Homo sapiens: one gene and its partners. The protein of the gene in region 4 purifies or fractionates together with the protein of the main gene of each other region. This does not show direct contact. Each region holds a gene or a part of one and is shown on either strand. Other genes may lie near its edges.

Region 1 (8,237 bases), about 17 Mb from region 4:
ATAGTGTTAACCTCTCCTTCAGCACAGTTGTTAGATTAAAATACCTTCATAGATACGAAGGGTAATTACAAAGTTAAAGAACTGCACGTATAAAATTTTCTACTGCTTAGACACAATTTTAAAAACCTTAGAAATTTGTTTAGTCAGTTCCTTTATTTAGTGGATGGAGAACCTCAGGCTCAAGAAGGCTGGATGACTTGCCCAGAGCCATACTATGCTGATTTCTTAACTGTTATCTGAATTTCTCACCTGTAGTGTGGTGCTGGTTCCCCTGGTAAATTGTTGAGTGTAGGTCAAAAGAAATTAGAGTTAGACTTGATGTTTGCCTTTGTTATAGCTACGGATTATTTTTTTTTAAAGTTCTTTAGCTTGGAAGTGAAAGTCTTTTATGGGTGTTTGTGCGGATTATTCCTAATTAATTGAATGTGCCGGGTGACTTTAATTTCTCTTCTTTAGGCTGCGATGGATAGTGCTCGGCTTAGTGCTGCCAAATCTTCTCCAATGATGGAAACAATCAACATGGTGAGTGTCTTAAATAATAATGAGAGGGTTTGTTTGCTTACCTGAAAGTGTAATTCTTCAAAGTCTTCAGGCTATGTTAAATGAAGCAGAGACTTATGGGATGAGTCAAGCAGCTGTTGTGACTCCAGTTTTTTCTTAGTATATTTCTCTTTTCTTCTCTGTTACTAAGTGGAATAAATAATTCCCCAAATACCAGAAACAGTTGGTCCAAATTTGTATTACAAGAGACAACAACATATCAAGAGCTCTCTATAAATTTACATCTGTAGTCTTTTGATCTGCCTATTTAGAAAGGTTCAGAGTTGTGCCTGTGCCTAATAGTTATCTTTGGGAGGAACTAGGAAAGTTATAAGCTGTGGAGGTATTTAATGAAGTAGGTAACATAAAGGTATGTGAAGAGATTGGGCAATGTCGATATGTTGTTTTAGTCATAGGAAGGCATTTGCAGTAAAGGGCTGCTTGGCATTCTGAGGTTCTGATTTCTAAACTTCCTGGAGTCTTGGTAAAGTTACTCTGTTGTGCATTCCCTGTAATGGTTAGTTAGCTATGATTGTGTTTACTGGAAATTAGTTTGCTAAGCAGATCTGTACCTTTAGCAGGACTCTGAAGGTATAGATCCAACCCCTAAAAAAACTGAAGTGTACAAAAAACTATGTTAAACTGGTGAAGAGAAGTAGCTATTTTTTAGTGCCTGCTGGGGGAGTATTACCAAAATTTGGTCTAAGAATGTTATGTCTTAGTTGGATTATTGGGGGGAAATAAAAATTTAAAGAAATAGGAATAGTTAGTGAATACCATTTAGTTATATTCATTAGTAATAGAAAACATGTTAATTGCATTTTCAAAAATAAAGGCCAGCAATTTATAGGAAAAGTCATCTAAGAAGTTGACTCATTAGAGGGGGTTTGGTAGGGTAGGCCCACTGTAGAAGATCAATATTTAGTTTAGGTTTTTTATACTAAACATGGATTGATAAAGAGGAAGTAGGCCCAGAAAGATTCTTCATTCTTGAGTAATCATTATTTTTCTTTTTTAGCAAATTGATGTTTTTCATTTTTTTGTTTGTTTTTAGTGTTGAATCACTGATGAATAATTTTTCTGTTTGTAGTACAATAGTGGTTTTAATATTGAAATCAGAGCAGAAGCAAGCAGTGATTTTTCAACTTCATGTCAAATCCAGTTGGTACACGTTTGACAAGGGCAGTTTTTAATTGAAGATGTGGTCCTGACTTATTTGCCAAGGCTTACCTTTATATTTGTCCTTTTTCAAAAGTGCCTGCAATACCTTGATGTGTCAGTGCTGGGCGAGCTAGTTCCTAGGTTGTGTGAACTGATCAGAAGTGGTGTAGGTCTTGGAACTAAGGTAAGTGTACTTTCCACAAGAGGAAATGTGCATCTTCATTAGTTCTGGCCATAAGGATATAACAGCCATCATGTTTGAAATTCATGTTTTACCACAAAATCTAATATTATACACTAACCATTTTATTTCTGTGGTTGCACTGATAACTGAAAACATGTAACTGGTTCAAGAAATAAAACATCTAACTGTTCCAGTAAGTATTAACTTATTTAGTGGAATCATTTCTGTTCTCTGGTTGCCGTGTACATACCCTCTGGGTTGTCATTCATTAGCAGTTCATGGAAATGCACATCCAGTTATTAGGGCATGGATTGTTTTAGGTGGCAATTGCATTTTTCACAGAGGGGTCAGCAGTGTTTGAATAGAAAAATGTCCTAGTTTTCAAGATCTTTGAAGGATCAGACACCCCCCTACCACCCTTTTAACAACAAATTAATAACTCACATTTTTTCTTATGACAAAATTAACACTTGCTGGTATTTTAAAATTTTAGCATTTATAGATTAGGAGAAAGTTAAAATAAAAATTGTCCAGAATTTTGCCATACAGAGATAACTGCTGTTAATATTTTGAAGTGTTTCCTTCCAGTCTTTTCTGCACATGTATCTTCTGCAGTGTCCTCTTCTAATGGCCGTATGATACTCCACTGTATGGATGTAACATCATTTATTTTACTCCATCAAGGAACATCTGATTTGTTTTCAGTTTTTGAAAAAAATAGTAAAGCACTGTGATGAGTGTCTTCAGGCACACCTGAAGATATTTGGTTAAATTTCTGGAAATGGAAATGTTAGCACAGTGATGGACAAGATGACATATTTTGCTTTTCCAGAAGATTGTACCAGTTTTCTTTCTTTTTCACAATGTCTGAGATCACCCATCTTTCTCTTGGAGGTTTAAAAAAAATCGCTGCATTACTAGTTTAAGAGTTTGCCTTTTTCTATATTGAGTCCTGGAGGGGGTATTAGGCTTCATGTATTTTATATGTTTAAATTTTTGGCACCTAAGCCAATGGTTTGGTAGGTAGAACATTGTGACCATCAGATTTAGACCTTTGCTTTTGTAACCCTGTAGGGTGGCTGTGCCAGTGTCATTGTGTCATTAACTACTCAGTGTCCTCAGGACCTAACACCTTACTCAGGTGAGTTTGTCAAGGGATGTGTGGTGATATTTTTGCACAGCCCTGTCTTGTGTGACAGAGTTTTAAAAAGGAAAAATACTTATCATTCAGACCTGCTTGTGATGCTGTGTGCCTTTTCTCCCCTCAGTCCCCTGACTCCTTCATTTCTTTGTCTGCAGGAGGTGCAGAGTTTATCAAGTTTAGCAGCTTTTCACTGTTCATAAACATTTGATTATTCCTTAGTGGTATAAGGAGGTAAAAGTATCCTCTTTTCCACAGGACTTACCATTGATAGCTGATTTTACATCAGCATTTTTCTCTTCTTAGATTGGCTTCTAGACTGGACTAGTGTTCTTTATATACCTCGTTCTTATTTTGCATCTTTTTCCACGATATTCTAGTTTAATTTTAACTTTATATCATGTAAAAGGAAGCAAATGGATATATAAATATAACATCCAGAAATCTAAACTACTGTGGAGTAAATCAGATGTTAATTACAGGGTTAGGTTTGTTTGGGTTCTGGGAACAGAGTGGAACATTTGGTCAACCAAGTATCAGATTTTTTTCTCTTTATTTCTGGTAGGTAAACTTATGAGTGCTTTGCTGAGTGGCCTGACAGATCGGAACAGTGTGATTCAGAAATCTTGTGCATTTGCTATGGGCCATTTAGTTCGGGTGAGTTAAATTTCTTGCTTAGTTAAATAAAACTCTTTGACAGTTATAAAGAAATACTTAGGATTGTTTCTTTTTCAGACCTCACGGGATAGCAGCACTGAAAAACTCCTGCAGAAGCTCAATGGGTGGTATATGGAGAAAGAAGGTACCTTTCTTTTTCTATTTTATGTCATTTTAAATTTAGATGTTAACAGCCCAGTAAAACAGTACAAATTAGGTCTTACCCTCCATGATTTTATGTGATTTGCTAGAAACATTTGTTTCTTTTCTTTTCTTTTTTTTTGAGATGGTGTCTGGCTTTGTCGCTGAGGTTGGAGTGCAGTGGTGCTATCTCAGCTCACTGCAACCTCAGCCTCCTGGGCTCAAGCGATTCTTGTGTCTCAGCCTCCTGAGTAGCTGGAACTACAGGCACGTGCCACCACGCCTGGTTAATTTTTGTATTTTTTGTATAGGTGGGGTTTCGCCATGTTGCCCAGGCTGGTCTTAAACTCCCGAGCTCAAGCTATCTGCTCACCTTGGCCTCTCAAAGTGCTGGGATTACAGGTGTAAGCCACCACAACCCAGCCTGCTAGAAACATTTCTAATTGATTTTACCTGTTTGTTTTGCTATTATATGAGTTGAACAATAGCCTGTTTAGATCAGTTACCCTTAAAAACAATAAATATCGTAAAGATTTTGGTTTCTCCTTTTCAGAACCTATCTACAAGACCTCTTGTGCTTTGACTATTCATGCTATTGGACGATACAGCCCTGATGTATTAAAGAATCATGCAAAAGAAGTCCTGCCTCTGGCATTTTTAGGCATGCATGAAATTGCTGATGAGGAGAAATCCGAAAAAGAAGAATGTAATTTATGGACCGAAGTGTGGCAGGAAAACGTACCTGGTTAGTAGTGTGGCCTGAGTTAAACCTGCTTCTTAGGAATCACAGCTAGAATTTTTTACTTGCATTCGTTATTCATAAACTCCTCTGAAGTTACTTTCCCAGGACCTTAATATGCATCCCATTTAGTTTTAAACCCATCCAAATTGCTCATCCCATTTAGTTTTGAACCCATCCAAATTGCTGAGTTCTCAAGGTTGGCACTCAGGATTTTTGTCTTTACTCATTCATCACTGCCCACATGAGAGAATATAAACCCTGTGAGCAAGGAGAGCTTTACATTTTTAATTAAGAGTGTGATTTTATGTGGCCTTAGAGTATTTTAGAGTAGTTTTCTAAATGTGTTTTTCACCTTGTCGCATATTAATTGATGATGCCCATTTGTGTGATACGTTCCTGTGGGCACCCAAGTTCGTAAAGTTCTACTATTGTGAGAATAAGTCACAACACCAACACACTTTCTCTCCCTTTGAGAGAGTGGTGTGTTTTAACAGTTGAGAGTCACTGCTTTTAGACTGTTGGTCACTGACTTTTTTTCAGGTTTAGAAAAATCAGTTAATTTTTCTTGTCACTTAAAAGTTGTTTTAATTTTGCTTTCCTAGGATCCTTTGGTGGCATTCGATTATACCTGCAGGAGTTAATTACTATTACCCAGAAGGCTTTGCAGTCTCAGTCCTGGAAAATGAAAGCCCAGGGTGCAATTGCCATGGCATCAATTGCAAAACAGACTAGCTCTCTAGTACCTCCATATCTCGGAATGATACTGACCGCATTGCTGCAAGGCCTGGCTGGAAGAACGTGGGCAGGAAAGGTAAAGGAACCATTCATACCCAGTTAAAGGGATTCTGACTTCATCTTTCATTTTGCATAATAGTAACGATCTGGTTTTGTGTAACTTTTCCAATGGATTATTTTTGTGAACTAGATTTCCTAGACAGTGGAAGCTTTGGGTAAACCTTGCCTGATTAACTGTGGTATTTCCTCTCAAACTGCAACCCGTGTGGCCTTGCATAATGGACAGTAATGCTGGAGATAGATACATTTTCCATATTCAGCCTTCCAAGTTACGTCTTAAACCAACTTGTCAGCATTTTGTACCTGTTGACCTCATGAACAGATCAGGATTGGGCATAGAAAGATCAGGATTGGGCATATGTGAAATAGAGTAGCAAGGTAGCCTGCCTCTAAACCTGGGGCTGAAGATGCCCATCTCTGGGACCTATGAATTAGTAACAGTTATTTTTTTACACAAGAGCTTTAGTAGGATTCTTAACAGTGAACACTCAGTGGGGAACATGAGATTGTGGTAACCTAATGATCTTTATGTTGTAAAGGTCAATAGTGGCCCATGCAGGAATGAAGTAGTACCGGACTGGGAGTCAGACATCATTCCAATTCTGTGGTTGACACTGTTTTCTGTGAGACCTGGGTCGAATCAGTTCTTTAGGCTTCTATGAAATGGAGGTGAAGATAATTATCCTACATCCATGGTTTGGAGTAAAACTTGGTGGATGTGCTTAAAATTATGCATTAAAGATAAGGTGACTGTTGTTAATTTTTGTTGTCATAGTTATCAAAAATTCCTAAGGTAATTGTAATCATGGTTTAGACAGTGTAAATGACATGTTTGGGCTTAATAGTATTTCCTCATCTTTCAACCCCTTAGGAGGAGCTATTGAAAGCCATTGCCTGTGTGGTGACAGCTTGCAGGTAAATGTTCTTTCAATGAAGATGCCATTTCTTAAACTGGACCCGAAAACTGCAGCCTTTATTAACTTCTGATGCTTTTGTATGGACCCTGTAGTGCAGAGCTGGAAAAGTCTGTGCCCAATCAACCCAGCACAAATGAAATTCTTCAAGCTGTTCTGAAGGAATGTAGCAAAGAGAATGTCAAATACAAGATTGTAGCAATCAGCTGTGCAGCTGATATCTTGAAGGCCACCAAAGAGGACAGATTCCAGGAGTTCTCTAACATTGTCATACCTCTCATCAAGAAGGTAATACCACCTGTATCCTCAGTTCTGGTTTATACTTTAAAAAGAAAAAGTTAAAAAATTGTTTTCCCCTATGTCCTGATTATTAGGATTAGTTTAGCTGCAAGTAGCAGAGAAATTCCAAAATACGGCCTTAAACAAGATAGTCAATGCTATGTTTCTCACAAAGCGTTGGGAGCATCACAAAGTGTTCAGGTATTCCGTCTCTTTACAGCTCTGAACTCTGCCATTTCTAGGGTGTGGTCATCATCCTCATGGTCCACAGTGTGTTTGTGTTCTAGGCAGGAATGCAGAGGAGATGAAGCAAGGATGAAGGATACAGTGGGCATGCCATGTCTCTCTTGAGGAGAGTTCCTGGGCACCGCTAGATGGCACTTTGACTTATAGCCATCCTGTTGGTCAGTACTTAGCCACACCTGGCAGCAGACTGAGTCTTCATTCTGGGTGTCCATTTGCCCTCCATGGGAGAAGGGGAGAGTGGATTTGGTAGTGAATGAACAGTTTATGTCATAATAAGCTTTGCCTTGGCTAATAAGCTAAGCCACCCCAGCCATCCTAGAGTAAAGGCAAGAAGCTCAGTGTGCCATGTGAATTGCCTCTGCCATATAGTGGAGGATTTGGGTCAAAAAAAGACTCAAGTTTCATGTGGAAAATGGAATACTCATTTTTAAAAGTTGGGCACTGGTCCCCCCCCCAAAAAAAAGGGTGTGGTTTCCCTGTTTATTTGTGAAACATGAAATATTTTAAGTAACATTCTTATTTCTTATTGCTCCTAAATTGCAGTTGTTTTCTTTCAGTAATAAGGCTATTTAAATAATTTCCATTACAAACATAGTGATAGCATATGGATTTGGGAGACTTGTGTTTTAAGTTGATTACATCACTAGCAAGCTGGACCAGTTGCTTCTCTTAGCCTCTGTTTCTCTATCAAGAAAGAGTTTGGATTTAGATCATTACTGAGTTTCTTCCATCTTTAAAATCTGATTCTAATGCAAGTCTTTTCATGTTATGCTCAAAAGACTACATATGCAGTATTTTTTAGCTTTTGTTTACAGATGCCTGTAAAGTATTGCCTAAATTTATTAGAGATACAGTATTCTGGTTATAAATTCTTGTTGTAAATAGGGAAACTTATGGTAGAGAATTTATCATTTAACTCTTGGTTAATATCTCCTGCCTTGGTTGGTACCCTGATAGCTTTAATAGTATACCTGTAACTTTGAAGAAGAAAATATTACATTTTCTTTTCTTTGATATATCCTAGAACTCACTTGAAAGCAGTGGGGTCCGGACAACCAAAAATGAAGAGGAGAATGAAAAGGAAAAGGAGCTCCAGCTGGAATATCTGCTGGGTGCCTTTGAAAGCCTGGGCAAAGCCTGGCCGCGAAACGCGGAGACCCAACGTAAGCACCAGAAACTGCATTTGAAGTGCTGTAACCAGAGGTTACTTAATGAGAGCGAAGAATTTTCTCTATGACAAATTATAGTTATTGTTTCTTATCGAGCCTGATTGATTAATAATGAGAATTATCCAGTGAAAGTTTTTTGTCTACATGAGTCTGTGATCTCACTGATCATTGTACCGCTGTAGCTAGGGCTGCTGTAAGAAAGTATCACAGACTGGGTGGCTTAGCAGAAATTTATTTTCTCACAATTCTGGAGGATAGAAGTCTGAGA
Region 2 (8,237 bases), on a different chromosome or scaffold from region 4:
GGCCTGCCTTCAGCACATATCTTGAGGTATATTTATAACTGACTGATGTGTCTCCAATTTTTCTGATCATCTCCCAGCCTCCCATTGGTTGATCCTACACACAGAAAGGAGGGTGAGGGGTGTTACTTCAAAGATAAAGAAAGTTGTGGAATAATCAAATAAATTAATCCATACAGGCAGTTAAACTAAGACCGCTTTATGGTCATCTTCCCACATTTCAGGTTTTCCTACTATAAAAAGAAAACACGATTCTGTCATTTTGTCAAACAGTAACTTCAACAATGAGTTAATTAGTAAGGTACTTGACTTTAAAGAGGACAGAACTGGAAGAACAGGGTATGAACCAAATTAAATGGTCAAATTCACTGCTAGATAAGGTGGGTCTTTCAAATTTACAGCACTATCTAGCTGTCATAATCACAATTTTTAAACATCAAGTATTGGATTACTTCAAGCTTTTAAAATAGACACATAAGCTTAGAAACAGAAGAAAATCTGTCATTTTCCTTCTGCATCTGTCCCACTTCTGCCCACATTCAGCTCTCATACATGAAAGCATAAGGGGCTCAAAAAAAGGGTCAGTGGGGCTGGGCATGGTGGCCCATGCCTGTAATCCCAGCACTTTAGGAGGCCAAGGCGGGTGGATCACCTGAGGTCAGGAGTTGGAGACCAGCCTGGCCAACATGGTGAAGCCCTGTGTAAAAATACAAAAATCAGCAGGCGTGCTTGCGTGCACCTGTAATCCCAGCTACTCAGGAGGCTGAGGCAGGAGAATCTCTTGAACCCAAGAGGTGGAGGAGCCAAGATCATGCCACTGCACTCCGACCTGGGCAACAGAGCAAGACTCAAAAAAAAAAAAAAGGCTACAAAGAGACCTTAGAGCCTATTCTCTTTAGCATTAAAACTGTTGGTGCTCATTAGTGCTCCTTCACTCATCCAAATTACATATTCATCCACATGCAAGATAGTTTTAATAACTGTGGTGAGAAAAGACTAATTTTCAAAACTACTTTTAGCAGGCCCTGAACATATGTTTCAAGATGTGACATCCATCCCACTGCCGCCTGCACGCTCCCAGACCATGCCTTCCTCTAGTATCATCTCACAACCCATCATGGCCTCCAGCTCCTTGATGCAGAGCTAGGGAAGGCCCACACTACAGAGCTCCCGAAAGCCCCAGCCCTAAATTTCAGAAATCTCTGCTATGAATACTTCATGTTTACTTTTAAACATATTTCAAAATAAGGCTTCATGCTATTTTTCATGTAAAGTATTAGCATTTGTTCATTCATTTATTTGCAGGGAAAAATATTCCCTTAATATCTGAGTCCAGGCTCTTATCTCCTTCTTTCAGTAAGCTTTTTATTAAGTTAATGACCGAAAGAATATCCACCATTTTCATCCAATTGCTCCAACTTCTTCACAAATTTGGCTAGGGCAGAGAATAATAATAACTCATCCTCAGAACCACTGTGATAAAAGGAACATGCTTTTCAAAAAAGCCCTGGCCCTCTAAAGAAGGGTTAATGAAGCAAATCTTTAAACTACTAAGGGTACCTAACTCTTCCTCCTCCTATTTTAATTTTTATTTTATTTTATGAATTTAAGTAAAAAGGACATAAACCCTTATTCCATGAAGACGTAATGAATCCAAACAAAAACTAAGGAGCTATGACAATTGCAAGAGAATCTAGCAATCCACAAAGCCTTGCTAGAAAAAAAAGGGTCTATTTTATTACCTGTTCAGAAGTGTTCTTCAAGCGGATAAATTTCCCATCAACATCAATTTCTTCGATGCAAACATTTCCAGTGGCTGAGGCGGAATGAGAGATGCTAACACTACTACTCGCCTCTGATTCTTCCACATCAACCCTCTTCCGCTTTCCTCTAGTTGTACGTACACTACGACTTGAGGATGCTCGGGATACTGTCACACGGGAAGAAGGGCTTGGAGACAGCTTCAACCTATATGGGAAAAATAAAACAATTCATTTTTAAAACACATATGCCCTTCTCGCCTTAAAAAAAAAAAAAACAAAAAAACAAGGGCTGGGCACAGAGGCTCATGTCTGTAACCCAACAGCACTTTGGGAGGCCAAGGCAGGTGGATTGCTTGAGGTCAGGAGTTCAAGATCAGCCTGACCAACATGGTGAAACCCCGTCTCTACTAAAAATACAAAAATTAGCCAGGCGTGGTGGTGGGCGCCTGTAATACTAGCTACTCAGGAGGCTGAGGCAGGAGAATGGCTTGAACCCGGGAGGCAGAGGCTGCAGTGAGCTGAGATCACACCACTGCACTCTAGCCTGGGTGACAGAGTGAAAACCTGTCTCAAAATAATAATAATAAGAAGAAGAATATCCCACCCATGCATTTCTAAAGCAAAATATTACTTACAATCTGTTAGCCAAAGCCAAAGTTTACCTTAACTAATGTAAACTTCTTCATAAGGTGCCCATCGTCAATTTTCTTTTTTAAAAAATAACAATCTGAATGTTTTCTCTAGGGATGGAAGTAATATAACCATAATGCAAGAAGTCTGGTAAATGGGTAGAAAGTCATCTGATCTACCACCACCCACCACAGCCACTGTTATAGTTGGTGTACTTTTTTCTCTTTTCGTACCTGTACTTTCTTATGATCACAACGGATATAATATTAAAATTATCTGGCTTTTTATCCTAAATCAGCCACTTTCCTTTTGGAACTTTTTTTTTCTTTTTCTTTTTTTTGTGAGACAGAGTTTCACTCTTGTCACCCAGGCTGGAGTGCAATGGCACAATCTTGGCTCACTGCAAACTCCACCTCCCAGGTTCAAGCAATTCTGTCTCAGCCTCCCAAGTAGCTGGGATTACAGGTGCCTGCCACCATGCCCAGCTAATTTTTGTATTTTCATTAGAGACGGAGTTTCACCATGTTGACCAGGCTGGTCTTGAACTCCTGACCTCATGTGATCCGCCTGCCTTGGCCTCCCAAAGTGCCGGGATTACAGGCATGAGGCAATGCACCTGGCCCTTTTGGAACTCTTTTCTGAGAACAGGTGTCAAAAATATTTATACATTGACCAGATTTAAAATATATATAAAGCCAGCCGGGCGTGGTGGCTCACACCTGTAATCCTAGCACTTTGGGAGGCTGAGGCGGGTGGGTCACTTGCAGTCAGGAGTTTGAGACCAGCCTGGCCAACATGGTGAAACCTCTTCTCTACTAAAAACAAAATTAGCCGGGTGTGGTGACACACGCCTGTAATCCCAGTTACTCAGGAGGCTGAGGTAGGCAAATCGCTTGAAACCAGGAGGTGAAGGTTGCAGTGAGCCGAGAATCACACCACTGCACTCTAGCCTGGGCAACAGGCTGAGACTCTGTCTCAAAAATAAATAAATAAATAAATAAATAAATAAATAAATAAATAAATAATATGTAAAGTCTCTTTCAGCCAGTTTGGCATTTTACAATATATTAAATCACCAAAACACTTAAAATCTCAAAGGAACTAATCCATCCTGATGCAGTTCAGCATTTAAAGTAATAATAATAAATAAACTAAGAGTACTTGAGCAACATTTTCTGCGATGAGGTAGAAATATGATCTATTACTACTTCTATACCTAGGTGTTCAAAGAAATGACCAAGAAAATAAAGTTCTTTTTAAAATGCTATTTATTTTTATTTCAATAAAAAGGGTGAGAGGCAAAAAGTGGACCATAAGGTAGGGTGACCCTTAAGTTCCTTACCTCTCTTCTTCGCCTTCTAAGAGTTTCCTGTAAGCACTGATTTCCATGTCCAGGGCTAACTTTACATCAAGAAGCTGTTCATAGTCATTCAGCTGTTGCTGCATTTGATCCCTTATTTCCGCCATCTCTCTCTCTTTGTCTGTCAGCATGCGACGAGAGTTGTCTTTTTCTTTAGCAAGCAAGTCCTCTAATTCTTGAATCCTTTCCAAACATGCTCTAGACTTAAGATGCAAGGAAACATATTTACTTTCTAGGAACATTCCAACATTAGCACCAGGCAGCTATTTTAAATCATTTCCTAGACTGGAAAACAGTACAACCCTATGGAATCTCTAACTCACTAGAATTCAAGAGATTTTAAGAAATTAAAACCCAAAATTCCTCAAATACAAAACACAGACCTCAGGATAGTTTTGGCTGATAAAAGAATAAAAGACATATTCCACAAATGTAAGTTCTGTAAATATACATATAATTTTTCTGTACTTAGCCAAAAAAATGTTAAGATGTGGTTTTGGTAAAAGTCAAGTCTGGCTCCCTTACAAAGCCTTTACTTCCAAAAGTATAAATTAAATAAAGAACTTAAAAAGATAAGAACACTGGGTGGGTGTGGTGGCTTACGCCTGTAATCCCAACACTTTGGGAGGCCGGGGCAGGTGGATCACCTGAGGTCAGGAGTTTGAGACCAGCCTGACTAACATGGCGAAACCCCGTCTCTACTAAAAATACAAAAAAAATTAGCAGGTTGTAGTGGTGGGCGCCTGTAATCCCAGCTACTTGGGAGGCTGAGGCAGGACAATCGCTTGAACCCCGGAGGCAGAGGTTGCAGTGAGCCAAGATCACGCCATTGCACTCCAACCTGGGCAACAGAGCGAGACTCTGTCTCAAAAAAAAAAAAAAAAAGATATAAACACTGACTGACAAAATAAACCTAAGAGTGGGTAAAAGTACGTTTTAGCAGACTGCTGAGGAATATTCAGAAACCAAGGCAAAGGGACTCTGGTTACTATGTGGAAGGCACTACCTAGTGTCCCTTTAGGATTGCTGGGCTATCTCATGTTCAGTTAGCACACAAAGGACACACAATATAGGGTGATTTGTAAAGTATTACTGTGAATATAGAAGCTGTATATTTGGCATAAAAAAATTAAAAATCACACATCCTACACCAGAAAGTTCATCTTAGAAACCTTGTGGCTCGCTGGGTAATTATTCTTCTGTGTTTCTCCATGACAGAATTCATCTCAGTAGCCTCAGAAAGTGACAACTCAAAAAGACTGATGGATAGCTTAGGCCCTCAGAATCACAAGTACCTGCAACAGAGCAGGAGAGAAAGGGCATCTAATGTGCAAAAACTAAATCTAGAAGGCTAGAGATAAAAAGGAGCTACCAAATACATAAAAACTGTACTCTTGCTGGTAAATTTACTTTTCACAGCAGTACAGGTTCAAAATTTTGAAACTGCTTTAACATATACTGGGGCTGAACAGATAAGTAAATGGATGATAAAAACCAGGTTTCTCACTCTGAGAGAGAAAAGATACAGGTATGTCAGAAAGGAAGCCAAAATTGAATGCTGTCCTACTAGATTCAAGTCAGAGACATCTGTATGAATTCATGTTTATCTTAACACAAATGATTAGACAGAAAAAGTTATAAATATGTGCATACACATGGGTTAGCATACATAAAATGTTACCCACTTTTATCGGTGAGAGGGCCAAGAAGCAGTGATACCCAGTACCAGTGAGCACACTCAGTGCCCAGATCTTAATTTCTATATACCATTCTCCAATAACAAGAACCAGGGCTCCTTGGAGACTGGATAATTCTAGGACTGGGGCAGGGAAAATGCAAGATGAGCCTAGAGCATGTTATAGTACCAGAAAGCAACAAAGTGCTCAAAAAACAATGGGACATAGTGGCCAAGCTGACAGAACTCCCAGTGGCCAAATATGAAACAATTTAAGCCAAAAAAGTAAATACTGCAGTATTAGCTTACAACCCAAAGTATAAAGTAAATGCCCATGGTCCATACGGACACAAACAAACAAACAAACAAACCAAACAAACGGGGAATGGATAAATCGTTACAGAAGAATGCCATTTAATAAATGTAGATTTCCCTCCAGAATGTGGCGCTTAAGTCCTGCCCTGTCCTTCACCCTTGAGGGTAGGCTGGACTTAGTGAGCTGTTTTCCATGAACAGTGTATGGGAACGGAAAAATAGTAGCGCTGTTGACAGTGGAGAAACCTGACAAACACTATCTTAAACCAAACACCACCAGTGATGTCATGTGGTTATCACATACGTGCAATCCCTGATACGATGTGACAAAACGGGCACTTAAAACCCAAAACCCCAGTCTAATCACGTGAAAAGCACCGGACAAATCCAAATTGGGGGACAGTCTACAGGATACCTGGACAATCTTACTCAAGACTCAAGCTCATAAAAAACAAGGAAAGCCCAAGAAACTGTCACAGACCAGGGGAGGCATGTGGCACCTGGAACAGAAAGAAGATAACAGAAGAACTGGTGAAATCCAAATAGTCTGGAGACGAGTTCACAGTAATATACCAATGTCAGTTTCTTAGTTTTGACAAATATACTATGGTAACATAAGATGCTAACAACAGGGGAAAATGGGTGAGAGGAAAACAAGAACTGTCTATAGTACTTTGCCAACTTTTCTGTAAATCTAAAATTATGCCAAAATAACAAGGTTATTTAAAAAATAATCAAGAGTCACTGTAAACCTATTTGGGGGCAGAGGGGGTGCCTGGTTCACACGCACACACAAAAATATATTTTTAAAGAAAAAAAATTGACCAATCAATTAATTAAATTCCAGAGTAGTATATGACTTGACATGCTATTTAGACAGGCACTCCTCTTAAGATGGATATTACAAAGGTAGTCCCTGAACCTCAGAGAACTTGCATTTAACTGCGTTTGCAAAAATCATGCTATAAATGGAGAAATCCATTTCCCCGCTACCATGTTCCTTGTATTTTCTTTTTCTCCAAAAGAAAAAAAAAAAGTCATGTAAGTTCAAAATGCCTCCCTTTATTTCATATATCAGAGGTAGAAGATATATTTGAATGGGCAAAAAGGTAGAATCTAAAGGAGAGTTGATGAGAGATATAAACTACCCAAGATTCACAGATAACCTGAGCCGAGATTTATAAACCCAATGATGTCTCTGTTTGACTGCCTTTGATGTTGTAGAGCTCTTTAAGAGGGAAAAATCAAAATCTAGGTATAAAAATTTTAAAGTTACTCTGAATCATTCTGTATTTTAAATAGAAATATTTAAATTCTATTTTCAGTAGCTGCACTTACACCTGTGTAGTGAAATATAAGGAACACAGTATGAGAAGTTAGACCTAGATTCTCCTTTCTAATTCTGCCATTGAAACTACCTATGAGGCTATAAGCAAGCTGTAACTAATCTCACTAAACCAGTTTCCACATAAGGAAAATGAAGAGCTCTAACTATCTAGATGATCTCTCAGATCTTGCCACTAACCCTAAATTTTATGACTTCTGATGATCTTGGGGTTTTTAAATATTTTATAGTATGTAATGTAATTGTACTGGTTTATTAAGGTCTAGCTGCAACCAAAGTCTCCAGAATCTGGGTGTTAGAAAAACAAAAGTTAGAGGTGTTTTTAAGTACCATACTGTACTCTTCTCTAAGGCAAGCAGACTCTAACCAACCAATTCATTTGGTCCCAAGTCAAAAATCTAGAGATGCTATAAGCAATGTAAAATTTCTAATTCCAAAACATAACACTGCTACCATCTATATATTATTTAAATATATCTTGTAAAACCAGTATTTTAAAGCCATGTCAATTTTAAGTAAAATTTAAGAAGTACTTCACTAACCTGAGTTATTTAACCAAAAGGAAATTCTTATGGCCTAATAGGCAGCATGATGAAACTGATATGACTCAGCAACAAACACTATTAAGACAAACAATAGGAAAATATTCAAAAAGATAACATTTTTATTTTTGATGATTTTTCTAAGGCTAAAATTTATCAACTAATAAAAATATTCCTCAAAATATACTGTTTACCATAAAGTCTGTTACCAATAATGAACAGAGGAAAGATTCACCCCAGAGAAATTAAAAACTATTTTGGCTAAAGGGATTGCTCGTCTCCTATCTGCTAAGGAGTTAGCTCCTGGAAACCCCCAGTGCACTGCCTAACATTACTTAAAAACCACTAAGATAAGGTTAACAAAAAAAACTTGCAGCCAGGCACAGTGGCTTACACCTGTAATCCCAGCATTTAAGGCAGCAGCTCACGCCTGTAATCCCTTCCATTTTGGGAGGCCAAGGTAGGCAGAGTACCTGAAGTCAGGAGTTTGAAACCAACCTGGCTAACATGGTGCACCCCATTTCTACTAAAAATACAAAGAATTAGCTGGGCGTGGTAGCGCGTGCCTGTAATCCCAGCTACTCAGGAGGCTGAGGCAGGAGAATCACTT
Region 3 (8,237 bases), on a different chromosome or scaffold from region 4:
AGGGATATTACAGCATAGTGAAGAGAACACTAAGCTGAAGATGGAGCCAGTAGAGATTCATCTGTGAAATGGGGCTATTTTGAACAAACGACTCCGCATACCCTTGAAGGCTCACAGGCCGGCTCCCATATGGGAGCTCCCTTGTCCTCCAGCTTCTGGTTGGTTCTGCCAGTGAGGACCCCTAGGCAGAGATAGGAGAAATGGGGAAACAAAGTTAGGGTTTACCCTTGGCTCCCTCCCTGTGAGGTCTCCTTCGATGGCAGTGGTCTCATCAAAGGCTAGTGCTCCTCTCAAGGGCTCCTGCTTTCCTGACTGTCCCCCTCCAGGCGGCCTTCCAGGTGCCTTCAGGCCTGCACCCTGTTGCTCTCCTAGCCCCTGCCCACATCTGTGGTATCAGTACATTTGTGAACGAATTCCCCTTACAGCATCCGCACTCAAATGCCGCTAGACCCTGACTGATGCATTCTGGAAGATTCCTCCCCATTGTCCATGTGATTGTTTGTGAACTATTTAACTCAGTTTGCTTGTTCTTTCTTTTCCATTGTAATGATTCCTGGCTTCTTCACACGAAGTGCATATGGTGTGCAATTATTAGAGGAAAGTGCCTTGAGTCTGCTCCATTTTCTTTAAAGTGTAACTGTTGTCCATAGTGACAAATAAGAGAGAAAACAAAAGTAGGTAAAATAAGGGCACATCTTTATTTTGCTACAAGGCAGTAAGTACACCGTCATATCTCAAAAGTTCAGTGCTGGCCATCTTGCATCAAATGTTCTTAAGGCAGTGACTGGCTATCAACCACAGTTTCTGTCTCCCCAGTTGCAAACACAGGATCCATGCAACAGTTCTGAGACCATACACTTAGAAACCACAGGGGATGCGGATCAAATGCAGAACTCCCAAATTATAAAACAGTCAGGCTACACTCAAAACAAAACATAGAACATCAACAACACACATCTCCCAAAAAAGAAGTGCAACGCATGCTTGTATAAACCAACAATAACAAAAAAACCACAATAAAAAATGCAGAGTCTCCCAAACAAGTTTTCAAATGTATTGCAGAAGGAAAAAAAATGTATATATATATAAAATTAAAAAGTCTGAAATACTAGTGCATAGTCAATTACCTAACACCAAGTTTCTTTTCTTTCTGTCCAAGCTCTACTGCCCCTCTGATACTAGCAGCATGTCTACAGGCTAAGACCATAGCAGCAAAAAACGTTTTTCATTTGGCATTTACAAAATTAAATTACTGAATAAAAATATAATTTTTTATAAAACTATTTCTTACAGTAATAATTTTTAAAGCAAGCTAACAGAAAACTCATAAAATGGTTTGGTACAATAAATGTACCTTCAATGTCATTAACCATAAATGAGCATTTACAATCTGGATTAAATGTCACATGGTATTAAGTCTACACTTAGAGTAATGCTTTTACTGATTTTTAAAAATATATGCATATGTTTAGTGATCGAGAAAAGTGAAATACTGGAGTACCTTTTAATGTGTCAAATTTCAAAAAACCCATCACAGGAAAAAATACTGATCTGTTGGATCCTTTAAAATACAGATAAATCATTTTATGTTTTTTTTAAAAAAATCTGCATTAAGATATTAACAACTGGCTACAATTCATTACCTAATAATTTAGGTAAGACTGTTATTTATTTTTAAAAATCCTTTTAGTTGGGTGAAATCCAAGAAGACTTCATTCAACTAAATGCACTTGGTGCTGCTCTCAACTGTTGTACCACAACAAAAATAGGTTCTTCTCCCATTCATGAAAAGTTTCATGTTGAGGAATGATATATCCCAAGTCAACTTGAAGTGTTCTGAAAACCATAATGCTTTTCTGGAAATGTCTCACATGACCAGCGTCCGGGCTGAGAATGCATTCACGTATTTACGAGCTTGACTGGAAGATGTCATCTGCTCCTCCATCTTTCCACAGGATGCAGGTTCCCAGGTACTGCTACAAGGCTGATGGAGAAAGGGATGGCAACAGGAGCGTCAGACAAAGAAGCTCATTCTATAGACCCAGCAGGGCCAGCACTGACCAACAGATGGCAAGTGGTTGACACCAGGAAGGCTTTGTCAGATAGAATCTTACCTCCCTGGCCCCCAGAAATCCGGTGTTCTTAAGGGATATGGATGATCAGAAATTATTTGTTAAGAGGGAAAACCCATTCCAAGCAGCTTCATAAGATATAATCCCATCTTCATATTTTAATGCCTTCCGTCTATTAGGCAATTTTACAAAGCTGGAGACAGGAATGAGCATTATTCTCCAGATACCTAAAGTGAGCTATGGCCATCTACTCACTAAGCAAACTGCTGAGTGCTGTAGCCACAGTGCAAAGCAGCTCATGCACGCACTGGAATTGATCAACACCTGCTAAGTGTCATATATATGTTTTCATCAATTACTTTAGAAATATTTATCAGTATAGTTTAATTTTTTTCCTTTTTTTTTTGAGACAGAGTCATGCTCTGTCATACCAGGCTGATCGGTATTGGTGCAATCACAGCTCACTGTAGCCTCAGCCTCCTGGGCTCAAGTGATCCTCCTACCTCAGCTACCCAAGCAGCTGGGACTACAGGCACGTGCCACCAAGCCCCACTAATTTTTGTATTTTCTGTAGAGACAGGGTTTCACCATGTTGCCCAGGTTGGTCTTGAACTCCTGGACTCAAGTGATCTGCCGGTCTTGGCCTCCCAAAGTGCTGAGATTACAGGCATGAAGCCAGTATAGTTTAATTTTTAAAGATACACTAGAAGATACAAGATGGACCTAATATCTAAGGACAGCATCTCCATGCCAGGGACAGTGGCACTTCACATTTCACATGCATTATTTCATTAAAACAGCACCATCACCTCGGGAGGCAGGTTCATTCTCTCTCTAGACAGGCTCGAGAATGGAGACAGAAAATGGAGGTAACTTGCCCAAGGCCACTCTGTAGGTAAGTGGTGGACTGGCTTTGAACTTTGCTGTCTCCAGCTCCTGCGATGCCTCTGTGTTGCCTCAAATGCAAACATGTACTATTTATGCCCCACTTGGTTTCCAAAAGGACGTAAGATGATTAGAAAAGAAATACAAGACAACAGAGTTTAAAAATGTGTATAAAGAAGAGTCATAACAGGGAAACAAATTTGGAAAAAATAAACACAGTTGGCCCTCTGCATCTGTGGGTCCCATATCTGTGGGTTCCACATCCATAGATTCAATCAATGGCAGATCAAAAATATTCAGAAAAAAATAATTGCTGTGTATTGAACATGTATAGGTGTTTTCCTTGTCATTATCCCCTAACAATATAACAACTATTTCCATAGCATTTACATTGTATTAGCTATTATAAGTAATCTAGAGATGACTTAAAGTATACAGGAATGAACGGGTACAATGTACATTATTCCAACGATAAATACACTCACAGCCTCGACTTTGACCACTATGCAATACATCCATGTAACAAAATTACACTTGTACCCCACGAATGTATACAAATAATAAAAAAAATTATATGGTAAGATGTGTGTAGATTATATGCAAACACAATGCTATTTTATATCAGGGACTTGAGCATCCCTGGACTTTGGTGTCCTTGCGGGTTCTGAAACAAATCCCCCATGGACACTAAGGAACAACTGTAACATGAAGATGGTATGAGATTTGCACACGAAACACCAGCATAAAGCACAGTGCCCCAGCTAGATGTAACCTCCTGCTTGACTCTGATCTCTCTAGCAGTCAATGCAGAGAGGGGAACAGAAACAAACAGATATAAGATTTGGTGGCTGTAAGCTCAAAAGGAAACCAGTGGGTTAGAAAAGGCACTATTCCTGGTATTGCTATCTGGAGGGATTATTTTCCATGGGACAAAAGAATAAGAAAGGCCTTAGCTGTTCAGAGCCTACAGTGTCCTTTATGAGACAGAATGGACACAGGTGAAACAGGAGGAATAATAACAGGCCGTGTGCGCAGGTTTGTGGTGTTGTCCATGGGAAGAGGGGATGGGACACTGAGGAACTGTCAAGGCAATGCTGTGGGGAAAGGGTGAAAACAGCTAAGATTAGGGGAGAGAGAGGTGGAAACGCAGGGATGTCATCCAGGGAGCGAGATAGCAGGAAAGAGGCAGGAAGCTGCAATTTGTACATTGCCAGTGGGAGGGGATGTGGAGTGGGGGAGGGCTGAGAAAGAAAGGGTTAAACGACAACATAAAACAAGCCCTCACTATAGGCACCGCATGCCTCTAAGTGTTATTGATATAACTCCTCTCATTTAATTCTCACACAAAACACCTGTGGCATAGCTACCATTCACTGCATCCATTTTACAGACCAGGCAATTTGAAAGGAAGAGAGGATTTAGGCGCCATACTCAAGGTTACCTGGGTAAGAAATGATGGAGCAAGAATGTCACCCATGGGACCACACCCCTGGTGAGTACCAGACGCTGCCTCTAATTCGAGTTCTTATCAGAAACAATAAAAGGAACCTGGGAAGTTGTGTGCTCAGGGCACCAGGGCCTTGGAATCCAGGAAAGTGCTGAGATGGGGTGTGAGAGTCACCAGACTTCTTAGCAAAGAAACATAATTCTACTAAAACAAGGTATGGGTACAGTGGTAGGGTTTCCTTGCCTAGTTGCTGCAACAAAGTTTCCTGACATAGGGTTTGCAGTGTAATGTTCTAGCTTTTAAACTTTCCTAGGGCACAAAGCTTGTGCCATCTCCCCACTGATGTCAACAGCACTGTCTATGAATAGAAATGTTCACTCTGCAAGCTCAGAGGCTCAACATATAACTTGAAATACTACATAGCAAGATGGATTATCATAATATTTTCCAGGAACTGAGTATCTCAAAAATGACAAGACAAAGATAACAGACAGGTATTCTGAATTGCCTTCTATTCCGAATTTAATGTTTTCCTAAACAAAATTACCAGGTTAGTTACAGTATTTGAAATAGTTCTGAATAAATCATGTTTCTCTAGCCTCAAGCATGCAGGTGAAATACGCATATCTCTCTGGTGTCTATCTGTCCATACAAATTCCCGAAACATGAAATTGACACAGGAAACCAATTAAAAAACAAAATTTAATGTTATCTTTTCAGTTACTGAGCTTGCATTTGTAGTCGCTACAACAGTGTGACATTTAATAGTGACTACTTGAGGGTGAATAGTTCAATATGGTGAATATGAAGTACGATGCAGGGCTTATGGCAAGGATTAGATGCACATGGAGCCAAGGACTTGGATCTTAAAGAACAAGTGACAAAACAGGAAGCAGAATGAAATATCTTAATATCATAATATCTTGTAGGTAAATTTAAATTTACATAAAGACACACATAGAAAAGAAAAATACTTGAAACAAATGGAGGGGAAGGGGAATGAAGGTGAGAATGGAGATGTGAGAACCAGGAAAGAAAGGATTGCTTCTGTTTTACTCTAGCTAAGAATTTTTCCAAAGTCTTTAAAATGGCCTATTAGAATTTTTTTTTTTCTATTTAGCTGGGCTTCAATCAATATAGAATTTTCTTGTCCATTTTTCTTTTTTTTAGATATAGGGCCTCATTCTGTTGCCCAGGCTGGAGTGCAGGGGCGTGATCACAGCTCCCTCAAACTCCTGGCCTCAAGCAAGCCTCCCGCCTCAGCCTCCTGAGTAGCTGGGACTACAGGAGTGTGTCACCATGCCCAGCTATGTTTTTTAAAAAAAATTTTTTGTAGAGAGCGGGGGTCTCGCTATGTTGCCTAGGCTGGTCTCAAACTCCTGGCCTCAGGTGATCTTCCTGCCTTGGCCTCTCATAGGGTTAGGATTAAGGATAAGCTACTACAACCAGCCAGAATTAATTTTCTAAATGCGTAAATTATCTTAAATGCTATGTTAAAACAATCTTATGCTTGCTATTACTATGCCTCCTGTTAAAAGTCAAGTTCTGTGTCTTTTTTGTTTTCGTTTTTGAGAGAGGGTCTTGCTCCTTGCCCAGGCTGGCATGATCACAGCTCACTGCAGCCTCCATATCCGGGGTTAAAGTTGATTCTCCAACCTCAGCCTCCTCAGTAGCTCAGACTACAGGCAGGTGCTACACTACACCTGGCTAATTTTTGTATTTTTGGTAGAGACAGGGTCTCGCTGTGTTGCACAGGCTAGTCTCAACCTCCTGGACTGAAGTGATCCACTTGCCTTGGCTTCCTAAAGTGCTGGGATTACAGGCATGAGCCACTACACCTGGCCTAAAAGTCAAGGTCTGATCCTTTGTAATATAGTCCTTAGGTTGACTCAGAATTCCCAAAGTCGATTCAGGAGAATCTAGTACTAAGTATTATCAACTGAATCTATTTTCAACTTGAAATCTGACTGTGTTCCTGTGAGATCCCCTACACAGCTCATCACTGTATTCATATTTAGCTCTTCCTCCAGGACTAGGTATTTAAAAATGAGATCAATATAAAGAAGGTACCATATATTTGTAATTAGAGTTCTGAGAGACCTTTCCAAATAGTTAGCTTCTCCTAAGTCAAAAGAGAATTTACCAAGAAACAAATAAAAATGAAATATCCAAATTCCAGAAAGCATAGCATTTCTGAGTCATATATCCCCTGAAGCTCAGAGCTAGGGCAGCCAAGATGACTTGGAACGCCTGATTCTCCCAGTATAGACAAACACCAGGATGTGGTAGCCACCATGTACGAGAACCACTGTGTGTAGGAACAAAAAGGCCACCAAGCATGAGCGAGGCAGCTCCTTTTCTGCACCAGGAAAGCACAAGACAAGCACATCTTACCACAATAAATGAAACAAACTGGTCAGAGTAGACATATGCCTATGTCGTGAAAGTCAAGGAAGATCAGAAGATTGAGTACTTTGGTACAAAAAAAAAGAAACGCTCCCTTTCTCCCATCTTACCTGAAGCCTGGGAGCCCCATGCCAACTTTTCATGCAGAAAGAATTATTTTGACAAAGGAAGATTAATGTCTTTGTGCTGGAAGAACATTTTTAAATACTGTCATACATATCTTTGCAAATTCTCCTTGTTCTCTCTCCCTAAACTTTAGTTTCATTTACCCTAAAGAACTGCTGAGAATTATGGGTTTCTGCATATGAATTCTTGTTAAGTTACTAACCCATGGTGCTCTTGCAGACATGTCACTCTATCATAATTCATTTCAACATTAATAATCCTACCCACACATCCTCCTCCTGTGGCCGGGGAGTCATCTCGCTTATCCTGTAATGTGCCTTTAATTGCCCCTGGGCAGAAGTGAACTATAAACAGTCTGTCAAAGCTTTAACTGGGATATCCTGTTAAAGCACTTTAAATAAATATTGCCATCTTTTGTAGAAAACAGAAGAAATAAAAAGAAACAAGACCATGTCCACAGGTGGTTTTCTGTCAGAATTAGATGATCTTCACATTTTCATTTAGAACATGAATAGTTTTTTCATCAAGCTGAACAAAAACGGTTCTTATTATTATATTCATACAGCAACTTCACCCAGTATCTGCTGGCTTCAAAAGCCTTGGCAAATTATGTGTTTTACAATTTGCTGACCTAATAAGAAACTTGTATAAACTAAAAAAAAAAAAAAAAAAAAAAAAAAAAAAAAAGTAAAACCAAAGCAACTCATCAGATGGTATCATGTTTTTATTGTGTTTTGTTTTAAAATAAGCAGGCATCAATGGTATATAAAACAGTAAAAAATAAGAATTTTCTGCTTATTCTATTTCACCTATCTGAAAAAAAAATACTTCCTCTGGACTAAAATTCTAAAAATGAGAATTCCTTCCCAAAGGGACATCTTTTGAAAAAATGGATCAGTTATAAGAGAGACTGTAGAAATCTTTAGTTGTCTTTGGAAAGTCAGAGATAAGCTTAAACTGAAATGTTGCTAAGGTAAGATTAATGGTTACCAAACTTTTCTCGAGAGTAAATGCTTCCCTAGGTTGGCACAAATCAATTAAATGACTCCAACTTCAGCACTACTGATTTTCTATAGAAAATAATCTTAAAAGTTAGGGAAATAAAAATCGAGATGGTGATTGGAAGTTGCCTCATCCACCAATGACTCCACTTCCCAAGCCTAACTAACAATTGCAAATGTGGATGGACCTTTCCCAAATTTGGAGTTTGTCCCCGATGTCTCTAGAGGTCTCTTCACCTTTCACGTTGATAGACTTTCTAAGTTTATATCATATAGCCTAGGGTGGCACAACTTTTTGCA
Region 4 (7,000 bases):
TCCTTGTCAAAGTGTCTGCAGCACAAAGCCGAGGGCGGCTCAGCAGGCAGCCCTGCTGCCGAACACCCCCCACCCAGCCAGGGCGAGTAAGGCTGAACTCACTTAAACATCATGCTGAATTCTTTGAGGGCCTCCTCAGTCACACCTGTTGTGTTCCTGGAAGAAAAACAGAAATTAGGGAACAGACCCTCCACACAGCAGGTGACTGTGTCTTTTCCTCCCCCTGCTCTGGGCTGAGCCTGGCCCACAGCCCTCCCGGGTACCTGGCCTGGATCTGCTGCTCCAGGTTGTGCTGCATGCGCATGCCCAGCTGGTCCAGCTGGTCCCACTGCTGGGCGAGGCCCACGGTGCTGTGCTCCGTGTACTTGTTGTCCAGGATGAGGGCCTCCTCCATGGCGGCCCCCAGGTCCTCGATCTTTTTGAGCTGACTTCTCATGGCTCGGATTTCCTGGTGCTTGCGCTGCAGGGGTGGGGAGCACAGATGCTCAGACGGGGGCCCTCAGCTCAGTCACCAGCCCAGGAGCCACTTACTGCCCTCTGGTTCCTGCTCCAGGCCTGGCCTGAGACCTCGTAAAACAAGAACATTCTAGAATAGGAATAGTGGGATGGGGTGAAGCTGAAGAAATCCCAACCACCTCAATAGAGGGAGAGACTTTCAATGTGAGGGTTCCAAAGCAGCTGGTAGACCTGCCAGAGGGCAGTGCACGCCAAGGACAAGTACGGCGAGGACTCCAGGAAGCAGTGGCCAAAGATTTTTATAAATTTTTTTGAGATGGAGTCTCACTGTCGCCTAGGCTAGAGTGCAGTGGCGCAATCACGCTCACTGCAACCTCCCGGGTTCAAGTGATTCTCCTGCCTCAATCTCCTGAGTAGCTGGAACTAACAGGTGCCCATCACCACACCTGCCTAATTTTTGTATTTTTAGTAGAGGCGATGTTTCACTGCATTGACCAGGCTGGTCTTGAATTCCTAGGCTCAAGTGATCTGCCTGTCTTGGCCTCCCAAAGTTCTGGGATTATAGGCATGAGCCACTGCACCCAGCCTTATTTTTAAGACAAGGTCTTGCTATATATTGCCCATGCTGGACTTTGAGCAGGTGTAGGCCACCATGCCCAAGTAATTTTTTTCAGAGGGAGTTTTGCTCTTGTCACCCAGGCTGGAGTGCAATGGCCTGATCTCGGGTCACTGCAACCTCCGCATCCCAGAATCAAGTGATTCTCCTGCCTCAGCCTCCTGAGTAGCTGGGATTACAGGTGCCTGCCACCACACCCAGCTAATATTTTGTATTTTTAGTAGAGATGGGGTTTCCCCATGTTGGCCAGGCTGGTCTCGAACTCCTGACTTCAAGCAATCCACCCGCCTCGGCTTCCCAAAGTGCTGGGATTACAGGTGTAAGTCACCACACCCAGCCCCAAAGACTTTCTTTAAAGTGAAGAGCCCTCGGCCGGGAGTGGTGGCTCATGCTTGTAATCCCAGCACTTTGGGAGGCTGAGGTGGACAGATCACTGGAGATCAGGAGTTCCAGACCGGCCTGGCCAACAAGGCAAAACACTGTCTCTACTAAAAATATAAAAACTAGGCCAGATGTGGTGGCTCACGCTTGTAATCCCAGCACTTTGGGAGGCCGAGGCGGGCAGATCAGCCGAGGTCAGGAGTTCGAGACCAGCCTGCCTGGCCAACATGGTGAAACCCTGTCTCTACTAAAAATACAAAAATTACCCAGGTGTGGTGGTGGGCGCCTGTAATCCCAGCTACTTGGGAGGTTGAGGCAGGAGGATCACTTGAACCCAGGAGGTGGAGGTTGCAGTGAGCCAAGACCACGTCCATTGCACTCCAGCCTGGGCAACAAGAGTGAAACTCCATCTCAAAAGATAATTAAAAATAAACAAAAATTAGCCAAATGTGGTGGCACACATCTGTAGTACAGCTATTTGGGAGGCTGAGGCAGGAGAATTGCTTGACCTGGGAGGTGGAGGTTGCAGTGAGCCAATATCGCACCACTGCACTCCAGCCTGGGCGAGAGAGAGATTCCATGAAGAAAGAAAGAAAAGAGAGAGAGATAGTGAAGAGCCCTAGACTGCTTTAGGCCAAGGGAAAAGGGTACAATAATAGCACATCTGGTTCCTGACTTTAAGCCAGGAAGGGAAGGGGTACCCTGGGGGGTGGCTGGGTGAAGGGTCTCTGCTGGGCCAGAGCCCCACGGGCACTTACTTTGGTAGCTTCAAGCTGGGATTCGAGGGTCCCCGACTCTTCCACCATACAGGACCTAAACGTGGAAGGACAGTGAGGAAAGGGGCCTGCTCCCAGCTGGCCGAGAGCTCAGAATGAACCTTCTCTCAGAGAGAGCAATGCCTGGCAACCTCACATTCCTTTTAAGGAAACCAAACCTAACTGCAACTGGCCATCTTTACCTAATGGGCCCCAGGGATCGAGGGATGGCAGGGAGCATTTCTCCCGTTTTAGAGATGGGAAGCTGCTGCCTTGGTGTGGGCCAGGGCTGAGCCCACTCGTCTTGCTCCCAAGGCCAGGATGACTCAGGAATGGAGTTTAAATTCCCCCATGGGTGCAGGGTGGCTGCAGGCCTGTCTGAGCATCCTCTCTGCAGCCATGTGGGGGATGGCACACCCTGACACCTGACAGACAGGAGACCTCAGGGCAGAGGGGAGGCTGAGAACCTGACAGCCTCCCCACAGAAACCCTGGAGTGTCCCGGCAAGGTTCCTGAGGGAGGGAGCCCCATTCTAGGGGGAATGAGAGCACGACCCTGCAGACAAAGGACACAAGTGGAGTGCTGGGAGATCACGACCAACTGTGCCAAAAGGAGAGAGATGGCTGTGACTAAACCCCAGATCCCGGTTCCATCCTCTAGACACAGCCAGGGAGGGAGCCTCCTCTCTAGGACCAAGTTCTGAGAGCAGATGGGCTCTGGGGAGCCTCCTTCCCAAGAGAACACAGTGCCAGGTCACAGAGGCTACCAGTAAACAAAGACAACAAACGAGTTAGGGTTACGTGCAGGGACGAATCACACGGTGCGTGTGGCCTTGGTGGGGTTTTAGCCCAGGCTCCCCTGTACCCACATTCACCCCAACCTACCCTTTTAAAACCCGGCGAGCCAGGGTTAGCTCTGCAATCTCCCCAGGTTCAAAGTGCTCTAGCAAGGCAAGGCACCAGGCTTCCTCCTACCCCAGCAGGTCAGACTCACAGTCACGCCATGTCCCCCCGGGGAAAATGCCCCCCAGGACCTGGGGGCAGGAGGCTGGGTGCCGGTGCAGTGGGAGGACAGACCCCTCCTTCCCAAGCAGCCGAGGGCGGCAGGTTAGTCAGGGTGGAGCCGCCTGGGGATGTCAAGAGTGCATCAGTAAAGCCACAGTGAGGTAAGAAGAGAAATAAGGAGAAAAACCTTCCAGACAGATCATCCCCAACTTCATACTGATAGACACGAATGACCCGACGATATGCTATGCTATTCAAAGAAAAGAAACCAAATGAATACACCAAAGGGAGGGGAGGCAAGAGCACACTGCAACAGACACACACAAAGCCCAAGCTGGCAGGGCGCAGGCAAGGGCAACCTGGTGCCCGGCGGGTACCTGGAGGCAGCAGGCCCAGTGGTTCACCCCAGGCAGCTCACACTAGGAATGGGCAAGATGGGCAGGGCTTGGGAGGAGCCATAAGGTGAGGGGAGCGTGGCACCTCACGGAGACAAGAGCAAGACCAGCAGACACAGGCATGGGGCAGGGAGGGGAGTCAGGTGGCCAGGGTGTCCTACGGGCACAGGCCGGAAACTGCGATCCCTACGTCCCCAGCTGCTCTGCCATCAGAATGTGTGGCCCGGCTGGATGGGTCTATTTCTCCCCTGGCCGCCTATACAGGCTTGATGTGCCTGGGTGCAGAGCCTCAGGAGTGCAGGCCAAGCCACTCCAGTCCCAGCAGCCCTGGCTTTCACAGCAGGCTTGGCAGATTACAAAGGTGACCCGGCCAGGCAGAGGCCCCAGGCCAAGCAGAGAAGTCCCTGCCGGGACTGGGCGGGACAGCCCAGCCCTGCTCCTCCCTGGGGCTCCTCCCACGTCCTGTCTATCACATAACGGGTGCATTTTTGCCTTCTATTAGGGCGGACAGTCTTGTTACCCTCCCTGACCCCAGGAAAGTAAAGTGGCAGCCTCAGCTACTTAGGGGGTGTCAGTGCCCAGCCCTTCTCAGCTGTGGACTTACTGTACCCTGCCTGAGCCCCCAGCACTGCCATCTGCTTCATGCCCACTGACCACTGTTGGACTCGCTGGGGAAGCAGAGGTGAGAGCCCAACAGAGCCCGGTGGCTGGACAGGCACGGGGGTTCTTAGGGCCTCTGGACTCCAGCTCTGGCCTTCGTGCTTCATCACCTTCCCTACCCAAAGTGAGCCCTTGGAATCGCCCAGTGAGGCAAGGACGGCTCCCCCTGGCTTGAAGGCTCTATCGGGGACCAGGGACCATGGGCTATGGGGCAAGGCACACACTCCTCATCAGGTGACGAGAAGGGTGGGAGGGGAAGTGCAGCCCGCCCTGGGCAGGAAGGCCCATCCCGGGATCCTCCACAAGCCAGGCCACGAGGGGCAAGCGCACGAGACCCCCACATGACAAGCCCAGAGAAGGAAGAAAACAATATTAACCCATCGAGGAGGTATGTCCTGTGGAGAGCAGATCCAAGCAGCCGGGAGACAAGGTGGTGTCCGGACAACAGCAGCAATCGGGGGGACAGAGAGAAGACACAAGAAAGAAAGGAAAACAAAAGCAAGAACATCAGTACCCAACGCACAGACCCTGCATCGTCTGTCACCAAGTCATGGCTGGGGCTGACCACGCGCCCTGCATGGTCCCACTCAATCCGGGATCTCTAACAACTTGATGTCTGGGACATGCAGCACTGAGAGGCTGCTCCACCTATGCCCCCACTCCCGGCTCCAGAGCCCGACCAGGCGTTGCCAGCCCAGCTTTATTCCCAGGCTGCCTCTGGTTTTACACAAAGCACCACCACCTCCTTGGGGCTGGAAGCTCCCCAGGGCTTAAGTACAGCAGGGACATGCTGCTGCTCCCCGGCCCCAGCGGGCTGGCACCTGGTCTCTTGGATCCACTGGTGGAAGGCGTTGGCGTGCTGGGCAAACTCCTGGCGCAGCTTGTCGTTCTCCTCCTGCCGCCGCTGTTCCTTCTGCAGCTCCAGCTCCCTCTCCTGAGGGCCAAAGGGGGGCAGATGCTGTGCGCTGCTGTGGCAGTGACACCAGCCCCTCCTTCACAGATGGGCTCAGGGTGGTGGTGGCCTCCCCACAAGGAACCTCCCCAAAGATGAGAGGAGGAGGCTGGGAGACATGAGGCCGGCTCAGAGCACTTGGTAGTTCTTTCTCTGTTCCCACCCCCCAGGGGCTTCAAGGAAGAGGCGGACCTGGAGGGAAGCGACTGGTCAGTCAAGCAGGGAGTTGCTGGACTGTCAGAAATGGAAACTTCTGGCTGGGTACAGTGGCTCACACCTGTAATCCCAGCACTTTGGGAGGCCTGGGCAGGAGGACTGCTTGAGGCCAGGAGTTGAAGACCAGCCTGGGCAACATAGCAACACCCTGTCTACAAAAATTAAAATAATTAGCCAGGCGTGGTGGCACGTGCTTGTAGTCCCAGTTATTCAAGAGGCTCAGGCAAGAGGATCACCTGAGCCTGGGAGGTTGAGGCTACAGGGAGCCATGGTAGCACCACTGCACTGAAGCCTGGGTGACAGAGACCCTGCCTCAAGAACACAAAAAGAAATGAAACTTCTGATGAAACCATGCTCCTCCATCCTGCTCGTCTTGTCGTGACTCAGTTAAGTGTGGGCTCTGAGCAGGGCCCAGAGAGGGCTCTGGGAGGCCGAGCAGCTCCTGAGGGCAGCGGGAGGTGTACCTTGATGATTTTCTGTAGGTTCCTCCAGGTCTCCTCCAGGGCCTCCATGGTAAACCAGGTGTAGGGGTTGGAGGCTACGCGGAAGCTCTTGATCTGGCGGTCCAGCTCGGCCAGCTGGTTGAAGTCAGCCTGGGCAGAGCTGAGGGAGGAGCGGAAGGCGTCGTGGGCCTCGCGCAAAGCTTTGATTTCTTCCAAGGAGTTGCAGCGCACGGGGTCTGTTAAGTCCTCCTCTGCATTTTCAAACCAGCTGTTGAAGGCAGAAGCCTTTTTGGCGAAGGTCAGGAAGAGGTCCTCCACCTGGAAGCAGAAGAGACTGAGTTGGCGGAGTCGCCAGGGCTGGACGTGCCGACGCAGTGCAGGAGGTGGGGTGCGGGGTGGTTCCTGGGAATCAGAGGCGCACACAGCCTGCTGGGAGCTTAGCTCCCCTCTGCTCCTGTCTCCTGCTCCCCCTTCAAGTCTTCACCAGCCTTTTTTCCCCTTCCTACCCTTTGCCCTTGTCTCTAGTCTGTCCTGCGTGCTTCTGAATGGCGATCTCACAGGGCCCTCTCATTTGCCCTGGTTTTAATTGATGCCAGCCACACCCATGTTTGAAAGCTCTGCACTGAGCTCACAGCTTCCTCAAGGGGGAGTGGCAGAGCTGGGCAGACAGAAGGTGGGCGTCCTTCCTTGAGCTGTGGGCCAGCTAAGCTTCACGTGGCCCCATCCTCACCTTGCGGAAGTGACTCTGAGCCTCCAGAAGCTTCTTCTTGCGGGCGGCTGAGTTGGCCAGAAGCTGGCTCCACCTCTTCATGAGGGAGGCGTGCCGGGCCTCGATGGCCTTGGACTGAACGTGTTTGGCGGCGAGAAGCTGATCTTTGAGGGCAGTGATGTTGGCAATGCCTTCCTGCTGGAAGGCCTGCAGCCCAGCGTCAAAAGTTTCCTGAACAAGGAGTGACAAGCCAATTTGTGGTGACTCCACAGGACTGGAACTTGCTCTTCCTAGGCTCAGATGGCACCAGCATGTCCCCCAGATGCCCAAGCCAAACTGTCCACCTGGACACTGCTGAGACTCAGTCACACATGCCCCCTTTCCTGCTCTCCTTCAGACCGCAGATCACTGCG

Evidence for each region.
Region 1: the proteins of SPTAN1 (region 4) and ECPAS fractionate together in Homo sapiens (co-fractionation; 2 studies listed by BioGRID). This does not show direct contact.
Region 2: the proteins of SPTAN1 (region 4) and LMNB1 purify together in Homo sapiens (affinity purification with western blotting; 2 studies listed by BioGRID, with this or other methods). This does not show direct contact.
Region 3: the proteins of SPTAN1 (region 4) and MYB purify together in Homo sapiens (co-immunoprecipitation; 2 studies listed by IntAct). This does not show direct contact.

What each region holds. Positions count from the first base shown.
Region 1 is NC_000009.12:111,368,761-111,376,997, reverse strand, and holds part of ECPAS (proteasome adapter and scaffold protein ECM29), read left to right. Parts: intron 1-456; coding exon 457-522; intron 523-1,795; coding exon 1,796-1,885; intron 1,886-2,959; coding exon 2,960-3,026; intron 3,027-3,591; coding exon 3,592-3,683; intron 3,684-3,761; coding exon 3,762-3,828; intron 3,829-4,377; coding exon 4,378-4,569; intron 4,570-5,168; coding exon 5,169-5,377; intron 5,378-6,232; coding exon 6,233-6,276; intron 6,277-6,370; coding exon 6,371-6,563; intron 6,564-7,824; coding exon 7,825-7,963; intron 7,964-8,237. UniProt on the Homo sapiens protein: Adapter/scaffolding protein that binds to the 26S proteasome, motor proteins and other compartment specific proteins. May couple the proteasome to different compartments including endosome, endoplasmic reticulum and centrosome.
Region 2 is NC_000005.10:126,814,638-126,822,874, reverse strand, and holds part of LMNB1 (lamin-B1), read right to left. Parts: intron 7,706-8,237; exon of another isoform or gene 7,628-7,705; intron 6,241-7,627; exon of another isoform or gene 3,954-6,240; coding exon 3,733-3,953; intron 1,966-3,732; coding exon 1,740-1,965; intron 95-1,739; coding exon 1-94. UniProt on the Homo sapiens protein: Lamins are intermediate filament proteins that assemble into a filamentous meshwork, and which constitute the major components of the nuclear lamina, a fibrous layer on the nucleoplasmic side of the inner nuclear membrane.
Region 3 is NC_000006.12:135,211,611-135,219,847, reverse strand, and holds the end of MYB (transcriptional activator Myb), read right to left. Parts: intron 4,450-8,237; exon of another isoform or gene 4,348-4,449; intron 2,968-4,347; exon of another isoform or gene 1,985-2,967; coding exon 1,868-1,984; 3' UTR 676-1,867; downstream 1-675. UniProt on the Homo sapiens protein: Transcriptional activator; DNA-binding protein that specifically recognize the sequence 5'-YAAC[GT]G-3'. Plays an important role in the control of proliferation and differentiation of hematopoietic progenitor cells.
Region 4 is NC_000009.12:128,625,587-128,632,586, reverse strand, and holds part of SPTAN1 (spectrin alpha chain, non-erythrocytic 1), read right to left. Parts: intron 6,819-7,000; coding exon 6,609-6,818; intron 6,197-6,608; coding exon 5,900-6,196; intron 5,584-5,899; coding exon of another isoform or gene 5,497-5,583; intron 5,202-5,496; coding exon 5,089-5,201; intron 4,663-5,088; coding exon 4,645-4,662; intron 3,463-4,644; coding exon of another isoform or gene 3,400-3,462; intron 2,267-3,399; coding exon 2,212-2,266; intron 461-2,211; coding exon 264-460; intron 157-263; coding exon 103-156; intron 16-102; coding exon 1-15. UniProt on the Homo sapiens protein: Fodrin, which seems to be involved in secretion, interacts with calmodulin in a calcium-dependent manner and is thus candidate for the calcium-dependent movement of the cytoskeleton at the membrane.